3 linked regions of the Homo sapiens genome follow. The protein of the gene in region 2 interacts with the protein of the main gene of each other region in a pairwise test. Each region holds a gene or a part of one and is shown on either strand. Other genes may lie near its edges.

The links. The genes of interacting proteins can lie anywhere in the genome.
Region 1: the proteins of ZSCAN23 (region 2) and SCAND1 interact in binary tests that used the Homo sapiens proteins (3 or more experiments, as listed by UniProt).
Region 3: the proteins of ZSCAN23 (region 2) and CEP70 interact in binary tests that used the Homo sapiens proteins (3 or more experiments, as listed by UniProt).

The regions. Positions count from the first base shown.
Region 1 is NC_000020.11:35,953,112-35,959,168, reverse strand, and holds SCAND1 (SCAN domain-containing protein 1), read left to right. Parts: upstream 1-4,666; 5' UTR 4,667-4,721; exon of another isoform or gene 4,722-4,829; 5' UTR 4,830-4,884; coding exon 4,885-5,424; 3' UTR 5,425-5,545; downstream 5,546-6,057. Other genes in the region: CNBD2 (cyclic nucleotide-binding domain-containing protein 2), read right to left, coding at 1,395-1,448, 4,416-4,589. UniProt on the Homo sapiens protein: May regulate transcriptional activity.
Region 2 is NC_000006.12:28,440,475-28,448,435, forward strand, and holds the start of ZSCAN23 (zinc finger and SCAN domain-containing protein 23), read right to left. Parts: upstream 3,018-7,961; 5' UTR 2,925-3,017; exon of another isoform or gene 1-2,924. UniProt on the Homo sapiens protein: May be involved in transcriptional regulation.
Region 3 is NC_000003.12:138,584,249-138,591,274, reverse strand, and holds part of CEP70 (centrosomal protein of 70 kDa), read left to right. Parts: intron 1-7,026.

The DNA.
Region 1 (6,057 bases), on a different chromosome or scaffold from region 2:
CCTCGACTATTCAGAACCATCCTGTGTGGTAGTTACTATTTCCAGGCTCAGAAAGATAAGTGATTACCCAAAGCCATGTCATAAAATAACTCATAGCAGTTCTATTTGTAACAGCTCAAAGGTGGAGACAACCCAAATGTCCTTCAATGGATGGTTAAATATACCATGGTACATCTATACCATAGATTACTACTCAGCAATAAAAAGGACAAACTATTGATACAAGCAACCACTTGGGTGAATCTCCAGGGAATTGTGCCAAGTGGAAAGAGCCAAGCCCAAATGATTATACACTATATGATTCCAGGTATGTAACATTTTTTAAATAACACAGTTATAGACATGGAGAATAGATTAGTGGTTGCCTGTGGTTAGGGATAGGGGAAGGGAAGATGAATGGATGCAATTATAAAGAGATAGCACGAGGGATCTCTGTGGTGATCAGACAGTTCTAGATATTGTGGTAGTAGTTGCATTAATCCACACACGATAAAATTGCATAGACCTACACACACACACACACACACAAATGCATGTATGTAAAACTGGGAAAATGTGAATAAAGTCTGTGGATTGTACCAATGTCAATTTCCTGGTTTTGATATTGTACTATAGTTATGCAAGATGTTACCATTAGGGAAAACTGACTGAAGGGTACATGAAACCTCTCTGAACTATTTTTGCAACCTTCTATGAATCTATAATTATTTCCAAATAAAAAACTTATTTATTTTTTTGAGATGAAGTCTCACACTGTCACCCAGGCTGGAGTGCAGTGGCACGATCTCAGCTCACTGCAACCTCTGCCTCCCGGGTTCAAGTGATTCTTCTGCCTCAGCCTCCCAAGTAGCTCGGATTACAGGTACCTGCCACCATGCCCAGCTAATTTTTTGTATTTTTAGTAGATATGGGATTTCACTATATTGGCCAGGCTGGTCTCAAACTCCTGAACTCGTGATCCGCCTGCCTCGGCCTCCCAAAGTGCTGGGATTACAGGCATGAGCCACCATGCTTGGCCAATGAAAAGCTTTTTAAAAGACGTATTCTCCAGTGTGATGGCTCTGATAAAAAAGAAAATAAGTATCCAAGCTTCTTTTCCACAACCCTCAACAACCAAGTGCCATCAAAAGGCACTGAGGTCTCTGAAAGAGTCTGGGACTCATATGAGAGCTCTGCCTTCTCAGGGATGGTCTGCAATCCACATTTGTCCTCTTTCCTTTAATCAACACTGAAGCTACCTAGGAGTCAGGCCTTGTGTTGGAAGCTAAGTGATATGAGATGAATGAGTTATGATCCCTTCCCAAGTGAACTCCCAATCTAGGGATAAAGAGGCCTAATAAGATAAGAGTTTGGACTAAAAGTCAAAAGATTTCTGTCCTCATGAAACCACTTACTAGCTTTCTTATTTTGGACCAATCCTTCATCTTCTGACATCTTGGTTTCTCAATCTGCAAAATTCAAAAGAATGAAATATAAATGTATATTTTAAGCTTAATCTGGGACTTCTGGGAGGGTTCAAGGATATATGTAAATTACATGAAAGTAGATAACTGCATCCCTTTTCGAAGAAGAGGCATTATATGTTTTTTTTCAGATTCTGGGAATCTGAATGTTTTAACTTTTATCATGGACATTTTCAAGCATATACCAAAGTAGAGTGTACATACTGCCAATCTTTCAAGCCTTCTAAAGTGCTGAGATTACAGGCATGAGCCACCGAGCCCAGCTAATTTTTTGTATTTTTAGTAGAGACAGGGTTTCATCATGTTGCCCAGGCTGGTCTTGAACTCCTGAGCTCAGGTGATCCGCCTGCCTATGCCTCCCAAAGTGCTGGGATTACAGGCATGAGCCACCGCGCCCGGCCAACTACTGAGCCAATCTTGTTTCATTTATTCCCTCCACATTATTTTTTTACTGCTGAATCACTTTAAAGCAGGCTTACCGGCCCACAAAGGGCTGGATTTTTAAATTCCATTTCTAAGGGCCCTTCCAGTCTGACATTCAATGATTCTAATAGATCTCTCAGGTCCCTCCTCCTATCTCTAATAATTCACGATTTCAATAGGGATGGAAGAAATAGACTAGAGATCTAACATAACATCTCATGATTCCAGGTGCCACAAAAGTTCATTCCCTTTCACAAGAAGATAATAACTAAATTTTAAACATGGAATTCTAGGACATTTATGATTTAACCCCCACCAGTGTTCCAACCTCATCTCTCACCCCTTCTCCAGATCCCAACCACTTTCCCATATAGCCTGCAGTTTCCACAGTTTTGCTCCTACTCACTATGTGCCTTTGTACAGGCAGTACCTTCTACCTGGAATGTCCCTGAGCCCCACCCATTTTGTTCTTGAGTCTCAGCTTGAAGTCTCCTCCCCAGTGAAGACTTCTATCACCTCTTGCCTCCACAGAAGGGTTAGTGTGCTCCCTTAGGCCTAGAAACTGAGTACCTGTTACCACACAGGGAATAGCACTGTTGGTCACTCTGGGCAGCAAACCCAACTACTGAGGGGCCAGACAGAAGTCAAGGTTTGAAGCCAGTAGGCATAACAAACACTAAGACCCTGCTTTCTCACCTCTAAAAAGAAAAGAGAGAAAAATATCAACTCTAAATAAAGCAACAACCTGAGAGCAACAGTAAATGCAAACAACATTCTATTTCAGAGAACCATAGGGAATGGTTGAGATTGAGACCAAATGGGACAGAGTATCTTGTCTAAAGGAAGTCGTCTCTACTCAGTGTCAGCTGATTGTTGACCAGCAGGAATTTGGGTCCAGTGTGGCCAGCTCTTCCGTTTTTTCAAGAAAAATTAGAAATCCAGATTTGCATGTGAAATCTCCCAATTTTTACATGTCAGCAACTAAAAAACATTAAAGGCCCACTGCAACGACTTTCAAGGTTTTCAGGCTATGGAAATGATTTCATGAGGGTCCACTTCTACCCATCCAAAGGAAACATCCTATGGTAGGGGTAAGTTTTATATCAGGGCTAATGGCATGTTAATGGTTGTTAAACCTGCTCCTCCATCCTGCACGGGCTCAAAAGGACTGCAAGGTCATAGAAAACCTTTCATATGAGGCCCCTGTCCTTTGAGGGCCTCAGTTTCCCCTTCTGTAAAATGAGGATATAAAACCTATTTGTGGCCCGGCACGGTGGCTCACGCCTGTAATGCCAGCACTTTGGGAGGCTGAGGAGAGTGGATCACCTGAGGTCAAGAGTTCGAGACCAGTCTGGCCAACACGGTGAAACTCCATCTGTACCAAAAATATAAAATATTAGCCGGGTGTGGTGGTGGGCGCCTGTAATCCCAGCTACTCGGGAGGCGGAGGGAGGAGAATCGCTTGAACCCGGTAGGCGGAGGACTCAGTCTCAAAACAAAAACAAAAACAAAAACAAAACTATTTGTGAGTCAGCTACCAAACAGAAAACCACCTGGCCGAGGGCTGTCAGGGCCACGTGCTTTTACCTACATCATCTCACTGAATTCTCAATTACCTCTGAGAGGTAAGTTCTATTACATCCACATTTTACTGATAAGAAAACAGTAGCTCAGAGATAGCAAGCAGTTTACCTAATAAAAACAAGAGCAAACTTCTTAAAAGCCCTTTCTCTCCAACGGCTTAATTTATTTAATCCTCCTAACAACTCTGAGCTGGGTATCGTCAAAGGGGATTCCACCAAGGTAGCCTCACTCCAACACTCTAACCCAAGGCTGCTCAACAGAAATATAATGTAAACTGCACATGCAATTTAAATGTTTTTAGAAGCTGCATTTAAAAAGTAAAAACACAGGTGAAATTAATAACATTTTTATTTGACCCAATATATGCAAAACATTATATTCCAACATGTAATCAGTATTAAAAAGTATTGAGATAATTTTTACATCAGTTTTTTCGTACTAAGTCCCGTATTTTACAATATAGCACATCTCAATTCGCTATATTTCGAGGGTTATCAACTAGCTACGTTGCAAGAGCTGAGTCAACTCAGGAGGCCAGCGGCCACCATAAGGGGCAATGCATTTAGAGTTCACTTATTAAATGCTGACGTTAACAGAACCCACAGAGCCGCATTTCCCTTGGTTTCGGAGGACACGCGAAAAATAACAACAGCAAAGGGTTCTCGAGCATCTCCTTCGCGCCAGACGGTGTGTTGTACTTTGTCATCGTCGCAGTAAGGCCGGTGCTATCGCCCTCCTAGTTTGACCAAGCGAGAGGACTTTCTCCAGATGGGCCCCTCCCGAGAGAATGGTCGCCGTCCCGCTCTCCTGTTCGGGTCACCACCGGCCGGGCGCCACTCGAACGAGCCCCGGCCAGCCGTCACCCTAATCATTCCCGAAGGAGGGGCCATCAGAGCTACAGCTCATCAGGGTCAATCAGAAGGGGCGCCCGCACGCAAAGGTCACCTGCAAACCGAAGCGGCGCACGGATAAGGTCCGGGACTTGAAGTCTATCTCCAAACATTCAGGCTCCTCCTCCGACTCCTCCTCGAACTGGCGCTCAGAGGCGCCACCATTCGGAAGGAGCCCAGGCCACGCGCAGCTCGCCCTCCCGCACCGCGAGGGCAGCAGCCGCCTCATGCGACTCGAGAACGCTAGAGGGCGCCGCTTCCGGGAGCCCGCAAGCGGCTTCCGGGTGCTCGCGCGCCGACCTGGACGCAGAGAAGCCAGAGACTTTCGCTTCCGGCTGCCGCAGGCGCTTCGCTGGTGCAGGTAAGCTCCGCACACTCTCGGCCGGTCCCGAGTCCGACTCCCTCAAGGGTGACGCGAGCTCTGCCCTTTAACCGGAAACGTCTCCCTGCTCACCCCACCCCCGCGCAGACGCAGTGCTGAGCACACAGCTACCGGACAAAGAGTGACGCCCGGAGCTGGAGTTATGGCGGCTACGGAGCCGATCTTGGCGGCCACTGGGAGTCCCGCGGCGGTGCCACCGGAGAAACTGGAAGGAGCCGGTTCGAGCTCAGCCCCTGAGCGTAACTGTGTGGGCTCCTCGCTGCCAGAGGCCTCACCGCCTGCCCCTGAGCCTTCCAGTCCCAACGCCGCGGTCCCTGAAGCCATCCCTACGCCCCGAGCTGCGGCCTCCGCGGCCCTGGAGCTGCCTCTCGGGCCCGCACCCGTGAGCGTAGCGCCTCAGGCCGAAGCTGAAGCGCGCTCCACACCAGGCCCCGCCGGCTCTAGACTCGGTCCCGAGACGTTCCGCCAGCGTTTCCGGCAGTTCCGCTACCAGGATGCGGCGGGTCCCCGGGAGGCTTTCCGGCAGCTGCGGGAGCTGTCCCGCCAGTGGCTGCGGCCTGACATCCGCACCAAGGAGCAGATCGTGGAGATGCTGGTGCAAGAGCAGCTGCTCGCCATCCTGCCCGAGGCGGCTCGGGCCCGGCGGATCCGCCGCCGCACGGATGTGCGCATCACTGGCTGAGCGGTGGAGCTGCGGGCGGCCAGGGCCGGGCGCTCTGTGCGGACTGGGGCCATGATCGGGCCCGGGGGCCTGAGCCTGGGACCCCACCCCGTGTTAATGAAAAATGAGTTTTGGCAGCGCCTGTGGTCTGGTGTGTCTCTTTCATTCGTTCTTATTGGGTTTATTTTACCAAGCCTGTTTCCTACCGCCTTTCTGGCTGGTGGCGAAACGAAGTTGGGAGTCCGTAACAATAAGGCCTTCGTTGGCTATAGTGGGATCTTTAGATGTTGACTGAACCTAGGTTATCCCTCTACCACACATGGGAAGTTTTTCACCTGGGCTCCCAAGGACCCACTTGGGTTTCTTACACGCAAAATAGCTGGCTCTATTAAATGCTCACTTAACTGGCTACCTCTATACCAATATGGGCACCAACTTGCACCTGCCCTTTGGGTACAGGCTTCCCAAAATGTCCAAGTTACTGGGCCATTTTAATGTGAAGTGTTTACTGCACACCTTCACAGAGATAGGCTAGTTCTTGTGAGCTCTGGCTTATGCCGCCAGGCTTGCTCAACTTCCTTGCCAAATTTTAGGCCTGTGGTAGGAATAAAGCAGAACTAGTTGAAGTAATGGATTATTTACATTACTGAAGCT
Region 2 (7,961 bases):
AACATGATCTGCTGAATTGGTTCTAGGGTAAGAAAGTTTTGTGGTAGAAATATCAAATAGCTAAATCCAGAATATGTACTCTCACATTACTCAATAAACGTACCATGGATTCAAAGGATGAAACAGCCACTTATGCTTTCTTGTTTTTTCAATCTTTTAGGGTCCGAAAATGTCTTTTTCTTATTTACCACCTGTGCCGCTTGGTTTCAAGTCAAAGTTTTTCTATTCAAAGGCAATGCAGCTGAAGCTTAGAGCTCTGCCCAGAAAAATTCATTTCTGGGATGTGGTGTTTCAAATCTTTATACAGTTTCCCAAATACAAATTTCCCTATTTTCTCTGTATACTCTGGGTTCATTTTTGCTTTCCTTCACCTGATTTTGCTTTTATCTGGTGGCCTTAATACCCAGATCCTTGCACCAGCATACCTGAGTTCTTCTTTGAACCTGGTGTCTCCAAAAGGCTTCCCCAGTTTTTTGTAATACTGCCCTCCTCGTCACAAACATAGAGTTCCTAATCTTCCATTCAGGATCACAACCTCAATGTATATGCCAGGTATATAATTAGCATAATAAGTCTTACCTTAAAAAATACATCTGCATTTTAAAGTTGGTTCCTCCTAGAGCCTCAGCAAGCTGAACACCCCCAAATCTACCATCATCCTCATGGAAGGATGCTGTTAACCAAGGACATGCACGTAGGTGAAGACTAAGCAGCATGTAATACAAATGTGCCTTTATCATCATATATCCCACGACCCTCACCTCCGCTGACACCATCTATGGCTCCTCACTAATTGGATGAATTCCCAAACTCTCAAGCACAGTTTAAAACCAGTCAGACCTTTAGCTTCTGTTGTCTGGCTCCACTCTTGGTTTCCTCTATTCCACAAGCAAAAACTCTCAGCTCCAGTCAGGTTTTTCTTCTCATTATTCTAATCAGGCGTTTCTCATCCCTGCGCCATGAGCTTGGTCTTGCCTTCTTCCCTTATTCGAACCTTACCCAATCTCTGCAGCTTGATTCAAATCTCACATCCTCTCTGAAGTCTTCTTTACCCATTTCAGCTCACCCTCTTCCAACTGCCCACTCATATGTCATGTACTGTATGAGTCCCACCTTTCACCCTCAGTCACAATTTATCTTGTACCATTACTTCTCTTCAGAACCTTTTTTAAATCCAAAAAGTAGAGAGGAATATAGAATTCTTTCACCAAGTTCTATTACCCTGAAATAAACAGTCTTAAATACTGGAATGTGTCCTTTTCTATGCATTTGCAATCGTATATACACATGTATACACATGTGCACACATAGAGTTGATATAAGCCCATATATTTTATTTACCTTAGACAAGCAGAAGGTAGTATGAGATAGCAGAGAACACAGGCAGATCTGGTTGTTAATTTTTTTTTTTTTTTTTTTGAGACAGAGTCTTGCTTTTGTTGCCCAGGCGGGAGTGCAGTGGTGCGATCTCGGCTCACTTGCAACCTCTGCCTCCCAGGTTCAAGCAATCCTCCTGCCTCAGCTTCCGGAGTAGCTGGGATTACAGGGACCCACCACCACTCCTGGCTCATTTTTGCATTTTTAGTAGGATGGAGTTTCACCATATGGGTCAGGCTGGTCTCGAACTCCCGACCTCACGTGATCTGCCCACCTCGGCCTCCCAAAGTGCTGGGATTACAGGCATGAACCATAGTGCCAGGCCATCTGTGAATTTTAACGCAGTGATCTTGGGCAAGTTAGTTGATTTTTCTAAGCCTCAAGCTCATATATGAAATGAGGTCAACAACTGCCTTGCCAACTTGTTGAGAATATTAAATGAGATAATGCATACAAAGTGTTTTTGCACAAAACCTGGCATATAAACATGCAAATTAATCTTTTAATAAGATAATGTACAATTTTGGTACAATGGTAGTTTAATTAATAGTTGCTACTTTCCCTTAGGGCCAAGACTGTAATCTTTTTCTATTGCTCAAAGAACAAGATGAGTGGGTGAAAACATGCACACAAACCAATAAAACGGCTGTTTCATCAGGTTTGCAGAAACACTGAAAGATATACGTCTTCAGATATATTCTCTCCAATCAAATCCTAACTAGAAGCCCAGGACTACTGAGGTACAAAAGAAGGACGGGATTCAAATGAGCGAAGTAACTTCCCGGGTTATAGCTGTAAAGCTAATATAGGAACAGAGTGGAGTTAGCATAGCAAAGGTTTTAAGAAAATGGAGTCTGGAGCCAAATTGCCTGTATTTGAATCCTGCCTACACCCCTTACTCGCTCTACGACCTTGGGCAAGTTACTAACTTCATTTTCTTCTTGTATGTTAATTTTAAAAAGGGGCGGGACAGAGAGGTGGGGTGTAGTCTACATAATAATAGTGTCTATCTCATAGAGTTATGAGAAGCAGATAATATTTGTAAAGTGCTTAGAACAGTGCTGGGCTGGCACATAGTAGATGCTATTTATTCTTTTAAAAAATTCGATAGCAGCAAGAGCCTTTATACTATGTGAGTTAGACTAAGAAAGGCTGTGGCATAGTTTAAAACTATCCCTGCTCATTCTTTAAAATAAGTCCACAGTAGAGAATAAGACATCGGAAAATACAAACATTTCTTCATATCCGAATCTATTTGAATCCTAAGATGCAGATACGGAGAGTTCAGAGTGCCATCAGTACAGGGCAGAGAGGTTGAAGAGCTCAGGAACAGACATAGGGTGGGGGAAAGGGGTAGGGGCAACGACGCTGACTTTTGGTTAACAAAGCCCTTCCAGGCTGCGGAGCAACCTCCTCTGCCCTTCACCTGCCCGGCCCATCTCTGGCCAAGAAGACCCTGCCGCCAAATCCCCACACCCAGTCCAGGTCGCAGTGCACAGACTGGCCCTTCCGAAGCCCCTCAGCGGTAGCCCGACTCCGAAGCTCACCGAGGCATCCGTGAGAGGAGATGCCACCTAGCGCAGATCACATCTGCTCTGAATCCTTGACAACCGCAGCCCAAAGAATGATAAACTACAAAGGCCGGAAATGCGTCACCGCGGCCCGCTCTCCGCGAAACAGCGGTTCCGGCTGTGTTCCTTCTAGGAAGGCCGGAGGTTTCCACACCTCTGTGGTCGTCACTCTGAATCCCGTCTGTAGTCTTAAGTGAGATACTAGGTGACACATTGTCTTCCACGCGGCAATATAATAACGGCCAACATAGTGTTTTAACACGTATTAATTCATTACCCCGCATAACAACCCTGTGAGTTAGGTACAATTATCTCCATTTAACAGGTGAGGAAACTGAAGCACATTTCTACATTTATTAGTTGCCATTTCCTGCAAAGAATACCCTTTCTTTTCCCTGCCGTCTCATTTTATCACGATGAACTCATGGATTCCTTTACAAATAATTACTGTTATTATTATGTTGATGCTCAAATTATTTAAAATTTGGTCAGTTGGAGCCCTTTCACACTGCTCCCTCTCTTTTCTTTTTTTGACAAAGTCTCCAGGCTGGAGTGCAGTGGATGCGATCTCAGCTCACTGCAACCTCCGCATTCCGGGTTCAAGTGATCCTCCTGTCTCGGCCTCCTGAGTATCTGGGATTACAAGAACACACCACTATGCCTTAGTGAGGCTGGTCTTGAACTCCTGTCCCTCAAGTGATCCGCTCCCTCGGCCTCCGAAAGGGCTGGGATTACAGAAGTGAGCCACCGCACCCGGCCACAAACAGGTTTCTATGTCCTTTGATAAGTTCCCAACAGTTTTTGTGCACTTCACTTTCTCACAAAAGATATTTCAGTCCCATTTTATACTATTCCTACCCTAAACCTAGAATCACCATTGCTTCATGAAGCTACAGTACATCAGTGAAAAATGGTATATAGAAACCAAGATCTGGATTTCGGGCAATGAATAACCTCATTGCTACTGTGTCTGGCATTGGTTCCTGCCAGTCTACTGTGTCCAGAATTGGCTCCTTCCAGTGGGTTCCTGCTCTGACTTCAAGAATGAAGCCGCGGATACTCACGGTGAGCATTACAGTTCTTAAAGATGGTGTGTCTGGACTTTGTTCCTTCTGCTGTTCAGATGCGTCCAGAGTTTCTTCCTTCCGGTGGGTTCGTGGTCTCACTTGACTTCAGGAGTGAGGTCGTAAACCTTTGCAGTGAGTGTTACAACTCCTAAGGGTGGCGTGCCTGCAGTTGCTTCTTCCTTCTGGTGGGTTCGTGGTCTCGCTGACTTAAGGACTGAAGCTGCAGACCATCGTAGTGAGCATTACAATGCTTAAAAGTAGTGCAGACCCAAAAACTGAAAAGTGGTAAGGTTTTATTGTGAAAAGGGAAAGAACAAAGATCCCACAGCACAAAAATCAATGCTAGCAGGTTGTCACTGCTGACTGGGGCGGGGGTGGTAGCCAGCTTTTATTCCCTTATTCAGCCCCGCCCACATCCTGCTGATTGGCCCATTTTACAGAGTGCTGATTGGTCCATCTTTACAGAGTGCCGCTTGGTGTGTTTACAAACCTTTAGCTAGACACAGAGTGCTGATTGGTGCATTTTTACAGAGTGCTGATTGGTGCATTTACAAATCTTCAGCTAGACACAGAGTGCTGATTGGTGCATTTACAAATCTTCAGCTAGACACAGTGCTGATTGGTGTGTTTACAATCCTTTAGCTAGACAGAAAAGTTCTCCATGTCCCCACCCTAACCGGAAGCCCAGCCAGCTTCACCTCTCACTACTAGGACATATTATTGCCTCTAGGCTCCTTCAGTGTACAAGAGCTAGAATATATGAATATGTTATATATATAATATATTATATATAATACGTATTATATATTATCCTATATATCATATATTATATATTATATATAATACATATTACATATTATCCTATATATTATATATTATATACGGAGGATTTTATATTATATATATGTGTATTATATATAACATATATAATATATTATATACTATATATTATGTACATAATATATATTATATACAGATATAAAATCCTCCATATACATATATAATATATATATGGAGGATTTTATAAGATACTTTCTGTTCAAAAACAACTCCACAGAATTCTTTTACATTTTTCACCGTTGCACATTTGTTTTTTTTCTTTTCACCCACAGTGAAAACTCTGGCTCCCAACAGCATAAATAAATTCACTCAAACAAAATAGTTTCTTATAAACAAAATAGTTTCAAGATTATAATACCAATACATCACTAGCAATAACATATCTACTATGTAGAATTCAAAATTTCTTTGCTTGTTTTGTTTTTGAATTATATCCCATTAAGGGAGTATAGCTGTATAAATACCTTATTTGAATTAATTATTTTCTCTGTGGTTATATTTTAAACGATATATGGTTAGGAGCATTTGTTTCTGTTTATATTCCATTTCAGGGTTTGCTTTCATCCCTTTTTAATTTTTTTGACAATTCAAAACATTTACTTAGTTCAAAATCCACACTATATAAAAAGGTATGTTTAGAGGAGTTCTGCTTCCATCCCCAGTCCCTTTACCACATATACTCATACCCAATTTTCATTATTTATTTATCCTCTCCTTCCTTCCTTCTTCATTCCCTCCTCCCTTCCCTACTTTTTCTCTTTTTTCTTGCAAAAATGAGTATTTATCTTCTGTACCCCATAAGTTATGTTATATACATTCTTTCATGCCTTGCTTTATCATCTAACAGAAAAGCCTAGAAATGTCCTGTTTTTGAAGTAGTCCTCTTTTTTCACACCTGCATAATAACTCATTCTGTGGATGTACCATAATTTTTTTAACCAGTTTCTTGGGGGTGGGTATTTGGATTACTTCCAATATTTTGCTTTAACAAATAATGCTGCAATGAACAATAAGAGAGAGACTTTTGTAGAGGTTGTGTTATTTTGTACTCTCAACAGCAAAGTGTGAGAGTGCCTGTCTTCACACAGCCTCATGATCTGTATGTTTTCAGGCTTTTACATATTGCCAGTATGATAGGTCCTTTGATATTTCTTAAGGAATCACAAACGCAATGCTGAAATCCCTGCTAGAAATGGATTCACAGTGCCAAATTTCAGCAAGGATTATGGAACAATGGGAATTTTCACATATTTTTCATGAGAGTGTACATTGGTGAAACCATTTTGGGGAAACTCTGGCATATCTACTAAAGTTGAATGTATGCGTATTCTGTGACCCAGCCACCAGAAACGCATATGTGCTTGCATCTAAAGACATGTCTTAGAAGCATTTTTTGGTGATTGCTTTAAACTGGAAACAACCCTAATGTCCATTAACAGTAGGATGGGTTTTAAAAAAAAGTTTATTCAGACAACTGAATACTATGTAACAACGAAAATGAATGAACTACAGCTACAAACCACGTTGATAAATTTCACAAACATAATAGTAAAAGGAGCCAGAATAGTGAGTAAAAGAAGACAAAAAACACGACATTTGACCTCTCGTCCCTGAGAGGCGGGTGGTTGTTAGTTCAGGGGGTTATGGGAGGGCTCTGGCATCCGGGATGGAGGCGCGTCGCTTTCTGTGGCTGGCGCTGGATCCACCCTGGGTCTCCAGCCACGGCTGCAGAGAGGGTAGCGCGGTTTCTTAGGCCAGAGTGGAGTGGGACAGGAGGTGCCCAGAGACGACTGTGGTGGCTTGAGACATGGAAGCGCTGCAGCCTTTGAGCCCAGTATCCAGCATTGCAGCCGCCGCGGCGGTCTAAGAGCTCAAACCCTTTCAGGCGCGCGCAGGAGGAGGAGCGGCGGGGGCGGCGGAACAAGACGACCCTCACTTAACGTGGCCGCTGTCGCCGTGGGCATGCTGGGGGCGTCCTACGCTGCCGTTCCCCTTTATCGGCTCTATTGCCAGACTACTGGACTTGGAGGATCAGCAGTTTCAGGTCATGCCTCAGACCAGATTGAAAACATGGTGCCTGTTAAGGATCGAATCATTAAAATTAACTTTGATGCAGATGTGCATGCAAGTCTTCAGTGGAACTTTAGACTTCAGCAAACAGAAATATATGTGGTGCCAGGAGACACTGCACTGGGGTTTTACAGAGCTAAGAATCCTGCTGACAAACCACTAATTGGAATTTCTACATACAATGTTGTTCCATTTGAAGCTGGACAGTATTTCAATAAAATACAGTGCTTCTGTTTTGAAGAACAAAGGCTTAATCCCCAAGAGGAAGTAGATATGCCAGTGTTTTTCTACATTGATCCTGAATTTGCTAAAGACCCAAGAATGATTAATGTTGATCTTATCACTCTTTCTTACACTTTTTTTGAAGCAAAGGAAGGGCACAATTTGCCAGTTCCAGGATATAACTGAAGTCAGCAACTAAGTCTTCCTTCAAAGTTGTGATTTTTGGGAAAATCATGTATCCTATCTTCTCAAAGGAGAAATATTGTACAATAATATGAAGACTTATATTTTAAATAATTATTTTTTCTCAACTAATTTATTTCACTTAAAATTGAGAGAACAAGTTCAGCTTTTATCATAACAAACCCACATGCCTAGCTAGAATATATGAGTGACTATTCAATACCATACTGAAGAGTTTGATAGCATTAAAATAAGCCGCTTTGTTTTTTAAATATGCAGGCATGGGTTCAGCTTAATTCTATAATTCCCTTCCAGATTATTAACTCTTCATACTTATAGCAAAGAATCTGACAATGTTTTTCAAAAATGAATGCTCAGGGTTATTTGTTTCAAGTCATAGGCCAGAACTTCTGACCATGTTTATTATGTCTAAAAGAGTTGGTTGCTATTTTCCTTCATTATAAACAGTCAGTATTTTAAAAGCTCAAAGTAGAAGAGGAGTCACCAAGCCCTAACAGCTTGTCCAAAGATTTAAATTCTTATTTCAAATTTGATTTGTCCTTTAAGATTTAGGGCTATTTTATATTCAGAGTTCTGAATAATTACTTTGAAATTGTAGTATCATGAAATT
Region 3 (7,026 bases), on a different chromosome or scaffold from region 2:
ACACAGCCTGAAGCTAATTTTATACATTTTTAATAGTTTTATGCATGAAATGAAGTTGTGACTGTGACCTGTCACATAAGGTCAGGTGTGGAATTTTCTACTTGTGGTGTCAAGTTGGTGCTCAAAAAGTTTTGGATTTTGGAGCATTTTGGATTTCAAATATTCATATTAGGAACGTTCAACCCGTACCAGCTTTATTTTGGTTAGGTTAGCATTTCCTTTACTTTTCTATTTTTTGTTATTTAACAAAATCTTTTTAGCGTAAAATGAAATTTTTGTTATAAATCACATACCAAATGTATAGCTTAATAAATTATTACAGGACCATACCATTCAGGTATGCCAGATCCCCTCCATTACCCTATCCCAGTCAAAACTCCTGTGTTCCCATTTAGTCACCATTCTTCTGGGTTTTATAGTTTTGTAGTAATCACTTCCCTGTTTTTTTTTTATTATTTATTTATGAGATAGAGTCTCATTCTGTTGTCCAGGCTGGAGTGCAGTGGCACGATCTCAGCTGTCTGCAACCTCTGTCTCCTGGGTTCAAGTGATTCTCCTGCCTCAGCCTCCTAAGTAGCTGGGATTATAGGCACACACCACCAGGATCGGCTATTTTTTTTTTTTTTTTAGTATTTTTAGTAGAAACGGGGTATCACCATGTTGGCCAAGCTGCACTGTGAGCCTGGCCTCCTAGTTTTTGATAGCTTCCTTGTTATATAATATATTGAACAATTCCTATCGCAGATATGAAATCAGCCATTTCTTTAAAATGCCCGGGTTTCATTTAGAGGGAAATAATATTTCAGTTACAGTCTGAATGCTAAAGATCCTGAGTTAGTCACTGTTTCAGGCATTTCAGTAGACAGAGCTAGGATACCTGTATCTGTCTATAGACACACATGTTAAAAGATACCTAATGTATTCTACTTCCAGTCTTCAGATTGAGATTACAGAGCTTTTACTTAACAACTTCTCTATCACAACTGTAACTCCTTTTTTCCATACTGAGAATCATGATTCTCAAGAATATAGGAGAAAATAGAATATTCCATATTTACTCATTATTCTGTATTATACATATGACAGTATCAGAACTATATTTCTGAAATCACCATCAATATGATTACTGAAAACATTAAACCTTTTTTTTTTGGCTTATGTTCTTCTCATTTTTTCTTCTCTCTCTGTTTTAACAGTTATGCTCTATCTGCATTGTCAGAGTATATAGCCATTTCATGTTCTGCTTTTTCCCTCTTAGCCTATTAGTTCTATTAATATATTTAATGTTTACCACCAGTGTTTATGCTGAGGTCTCTCTAGGCATTTTGGCTACCTGAAGCTAATACATTGTTAGATTCCTCGGGAAGTAATATTGTCTGAGTTCTTATATATTGATCAAAGTTTATTCTTTTTATACTTCAAAGTCAATTTTGCAGATATAAAGTCTTTGGCTCACACTTCTTTTCCGTGAATTTCTTAAATACATTACTCCTTTTTCTTCTGGAATAAAGTATTGGTATCAAAGTCAGATTATTATCTAATTTTTCTTCTTCTTATAAGTCATGTGGGTTTTTTTCTTGTAGATAACCAAATAATTTGTTTTCTTTTTTTCTTTTTGAGATACAGTCTTACTCTGTCACCCTGGCTGTAGTGCAGTGGTATGATCTTGGCTCACTGCAGCCTCCACCTCCTGGGTTCAAGCAGTCCTCCCACCTCAGCCTCCTGAGTAGCTAGGACTACAGGTGTATGCTGCCACACCCAGCTAATTTTTTTTTTTTTTTTTCTTGAGAGACAGGGTTTTGCCAAGTTGCCCAGGCTGGTCATGAACCCAGGCTCAAGTGATCCACCTGCCTCAGGCTTCCAAAGTGCTGAGATTACAGGCATGAGCCACTACGCCCAGCCAAATTTTTTCTTTTTCATTAAAGTCTGCTAATAATATTAGAATATATCACTGTGTTGGTTGTTTTGGGTCAGTATTCTCAGGTACTTCATATTTTCTTTCCATTTGTAGTTTCAAATCTTTTTTTAAATTTCAGGAAAACTTTATTTTTAAAACAGCTTTATTGATATATTTAATATACAATAAGCTGCACATATGTAGTATAAGTTTTGACTTACATATACACCTATGAAACCACCCCAATCAGGATTGTCAATATATCCATCATCCCCCCAAATTCCCTTGTTCTCGTTAGTAGTCTCTGTGTCTAGCCTCCAATTCTCTCAGCAACCACTGATCTGCTTTCTATCACCACAGTTGGTTTTCATTTTCTAGAGTTTTATATAAATGGAATGTTATAGTATGTACTATTTTATGGCTGGCTTTCAGCGTAATTATTTTGACATTTATCCATGTTGCACATATTCTTTTTTATTGCTGAGGGGTATTCCATCCAATGGGTATACCACAGTTTGTGTGTCTGTTCACCTGCTGCTGGACATTTGAGTTGTTTCCAGTTTCTGGCTATTATAGATAAAGCTCTTACGAACATTTGTGTACAGTCTTTGTGTGGACATAATGCTTTCATTTCTCTTGGGTAAATTCTAGGAATGGCATGACTGGGTCTTATGGTAAGTGCTTATTAACCTTTTAAGAAATAGCCAAAGTGATTTACAAAGTGGTTGTACTAGTTTAAATTCCCGTCGGCAGTATATGAGAGTTCTAGTTCCCTCACATCCTCGAAAACACTTGGTCTAGTCATTCTTAGCCATTCTAATATGTGTAGTGGTGTCACATCGTGTGTTTTAATTTGCATTTCCCTCCTGACTAACAATGTTTAGCATCTTTTTGTGTGCCTAGCTGCCATCTGTATGTCTTCTTTTGTGAAATGTCTATTGAAATTTTTTGACCATTTTTAAGTTCAGTTGTTTACTTCTTGTTGATGTTAACTTCCTTACTAAGTTTTGAGAGTTCCCTATATATTCTGGATATGAACCTTTTCTGATTCCTGACTATTTTCTCTGAGTATGTGGTTTCTCTTTTCATTCTCAGAATGTTATATTTTAAAGAGCAGACATTATTTTTATGAAGCCCCATTTGTTCTTGAATTGTATCATGCTTTTGGTGTCATATCATAGACATGTTTGCCTAACTCAAGGCCATACAGTTTTTCTGTGTTTTTCTAGACATGTTGTGATTTTAAGTTTTAGATTTATGTCATTCATTTTAATTTTTTTGTATATGGTGTGAGATATGGCTGAAAGTCCTGTTTCTTTCTCTTTTTTTTGTACATGGGCATCCCATTGTTCTAGCATCATTTATTGAAAAAAAAAAACTATCGTTTTTCCTGCTAAATTACCTTCGTATCTTTGGTGAAAATTAGTTGTCCATATATGTATGAGTCTGTTTCTGGAATCTATTTAGTTTCATTAATCTGTTTGTCTATCTTGATATCAATGCTATATTGTCTTGATTACTATAGCTTTATAAACCTTGAAATGATATAGTATTAGTCCTTCAACTTTGTTCTTCTTTTTCATTCATTCATTTATTAATTTAGAGATAGGGTCTTGCTTTGTCACCCAGCCTAGAGTGCAGTGGCACAATCATAGCTCACTGATTAAACTCCTGGGTTCAAGTTGTCTTCCCACCTCAGCCACCTAAGTAGCGAGGACTACAGGTTCATGCCACAATGCCTGGCTAATCTTTTTTTTGTAGAGATGGGGTCTTGCTATGTTGCCCAGTCTGGTCTTGAATTCCTGGGCCTCAAGCTGTCCTCCTGCCTCAGCCTCCCAGAGTGCTGGGATTACAGGTGTGAGCCACCATGGCCAGCCTGTTCTTTTTCAAAGTTGTTTTGTCTTTTATAGATCTTTTGCAGCTCTGTATGAATTTTAAAATCAGGAAAGTTTCCTGAATTATAGTTTTTTTAATTGGTTCTGTTGTTTTAGTTTTCTTTTTCAATTACCACTATTATGTGTATGTTTGAGCTTCTTTGCCTATCTTTGTCATTTTCATATTTCTTCTTCATTTCTTTTTAATTTTTTAAAATTGTTTTCCTTTTAATCTCTATTTCTCTTAAGGCATTGTCTGTAGTCTTTACTCATTCATTTTCCTTCTTTAATCTTCATTTCAGAAATAATTAGTTTTTAAAAGTTACTAATTTCTAGATTCTATCAGCTCATTTCCAAGTTTTATTTCTAATTATGTTGTTTATGTCTTACAGAGTTTTACATGTATTTTAGTTTGTTTTAATATAGAGGTTATAGTTCCTATCTGTTTTGTGAGCACGTCTTTCTAGTATATTTTTCTTGTCTGTAGAGATTTTTTTTAATATGAACTTTTACAATTTAAAATTTTTTTAATTTCATGGGTGCACAGATGTGTATGTTTATGGGTTACATGGGATATTTTGATACACCATATAATATATAATAATCATATCAGGGTAAATGAGGTAGCCACCATCTTAAGCATTTATCCTTTGTGTTAGAAACAATCCAATTATTCTCTTTTAGTTACTTAAAAGTGTGCAATTATATTATTATTGAATATAGTCAACCCATTGTGCTAGCAAATATTAGATCTTATTCTTTTTTTCTATTTTTTTGTACCCATTGACCATCCCCTCTTCCTTTCAGCCCACCTGTTACTCTTCCCAGCCTTTGGTAACCATCCTTCTACTCTGTGTCTCCATGAGTTCAATTGTTTTGATTTTTGGATCCCACAAATAAATGAGAACATGTGATGTTTGTCTTTCTGTGCCTGGCTTATTTCACTTAAAATAATGACTTCCAGTTCCATCCATGTTGTTGCAAATGACAGGAGCTCATTCTTTTTTTATGGCTGAGTAGTACTCCATTATGTATATGTACCAGATTTTCTTTATCCATTTGTCTGTCAGTGGACACTTGGGTTGCTTCCAAATCTTGGCTTTTGTGAATAATGCTGCAGTAAACATGAGAGTGCAGATATCTCTTTAATATGCTGATTTCCTACCAAAAATATAAAAAATTGGCCAGTGTGGTGGCATGTGCCTATAATCCCAGCTACTCAGGAGGCTGAGGCAGGAGAATCGCTTGAACCTGGGAGGCAGAGGTTGCAGTGAGCCGAGATTGTGCCACTGCACTCCAGCCTGGGCGACAGAGTGAGACTCAAAAAAAAAAAGTTGTTTCAGATCCTTATACATCCTGGCTATTAACCCTCGTCAGATGGGTAGTTTACAAATATTTTCTCCCATTCTGTGGGTTGTCTCTTCACTTTGTTGTTTCCTTTGCCGTGCAGAAGCTTTTTAACTCAATGTGACCCCACCTGTCTATTTTTGCTTTGGTTGCCTGTGCTTGTGGTATATTACTCAAGAAATCTTTGCCCAATCCAATGTCCTGGAGAGTTTCCCCAATTTTTTTGTAGTACTTTCATAGTTTGAGGGCTTAGATTTAAGTCTTGATTCATTTTTATTTGATTTTTGTATATGGTGAGAGATAGGGGTCTAGTTCCATTCTTCTGCATATGGATATCCCAGCACCATTCATTGAAGAGACTTTTCTTTCCCCAATGTATGTTCTTGGCACCTTTGTCAATAATGAGTTCACTGTCAGTATGTGGATTTGTTTCTGGGTTTTCTGTTCTGTTCCATTGGTCTATGTGTCTGTTTTGGTGGCAGTAGTATGCTGTTTTAGTTAATATAGCTCTGCAATATAATTTGAAGTCAGTTAATGTGATTCCTCCAGTTTTATTCTTTTTGCTCAGGATAGCTTTGGCTATTCTGGGTCTTTTGTGCTTTAAATTTTAGGATTATTTTGTCTATTTCTGTGAAGAATGTCATTGGTATTTTGCTAGGCATTTGCATTGAATCTGTAGATTGCTTTGAGTAATATAGATATTTTAACAATATTGATTGTTTCAATCTATGAACATGGAATATCTTTTCATTTTTTTGTGGCCTCTTCAATTTCTGTCATCAGTATTTTATAATTTTCATTGTAGAGATGTTTTACTTCATTGGTTCAGTTAATTCCTAGGTGTTTAATTTTCTTTGTGGCTATTGTAAATGGGATTACTGTTTTGATTTCTTTTTCAGATTGTCCTTGTTGGTTTATAGAAATGCTACTGATTTTTCTAAGCTGATTTTGTGTCTTGCAGCTTTACTGAATTTGTTTACCAGTTCAAATAGCTTTTTGGTGGAGTCTTCAGGTTTTTCCAAATATAAGATCATGTCACCTGCAAACAAGGATAATTTGATTTCAAATTTTGATGGCCTTTTTTTCCTTTCTCATGTCTAACTGCTAGCTAGAGCAATTCCAGTCCTTTTTCATCTCTAGCTAGAGCAATTCTAGTCCTAACTACAGCAATTCCAGTCCTTTTTCATCTCTGATTTTATTTGAATCTTTTTTCCTTTCTTCCTTCATAGTCTGGCTAAAGGTTTGTCAATTTTTTATCCTTGTTCTGTTCTAGATCTTAGAGGAAAGGCTTTCAGTTTTTCCCGATTCAGTGTGATACTGCCTGTGGGTCTGTCATACATGGCTTTTATTATGTGGAGGTATGTTCCTTTTATACCTAGTTTTTTTAGGGTTTTTTTTTTAAATCATGAAGGAATGTTGAATTTTATCAAGTGCTTTTTCAGTATCAGTTGAAACGATCATATGGTTTTTGTCTTTCAGTCTGTTGATAATGATGTATCACATTGATTGATTTGCATATGTTGAATCATCCTTTCATCCCTGGGATAAATCCCACTTGTTGATGATGAATGATCTTTTTAATGTGTTGTTGAATTTGGTTTGCTAGTATTTTGTTGAAGATTTTTGCATCAATATTAATCAGGGATATTGGCCTGTAGGTTTTTCTCTCTCTCTCTCTTTTTTTTTTTTTTTTTTGATATGTCTTTGTCTGGTTTTGGTATCAGGGTAATACTGGCCTCATAGAATGAGTTTGGATGTATTCCCTCCTCTTCCATTCTTCAGAATAGTTTGAGTAGGGTTGGTGTTAATTCTTTAAATGTTTGGTAGAATTCAGCAGTGAAGCCATGGAGTCCGAGGCTTTTCTTTGCTGGAGGACTTTTTATTATAGCTTCAATGTTGTTAGTTGTT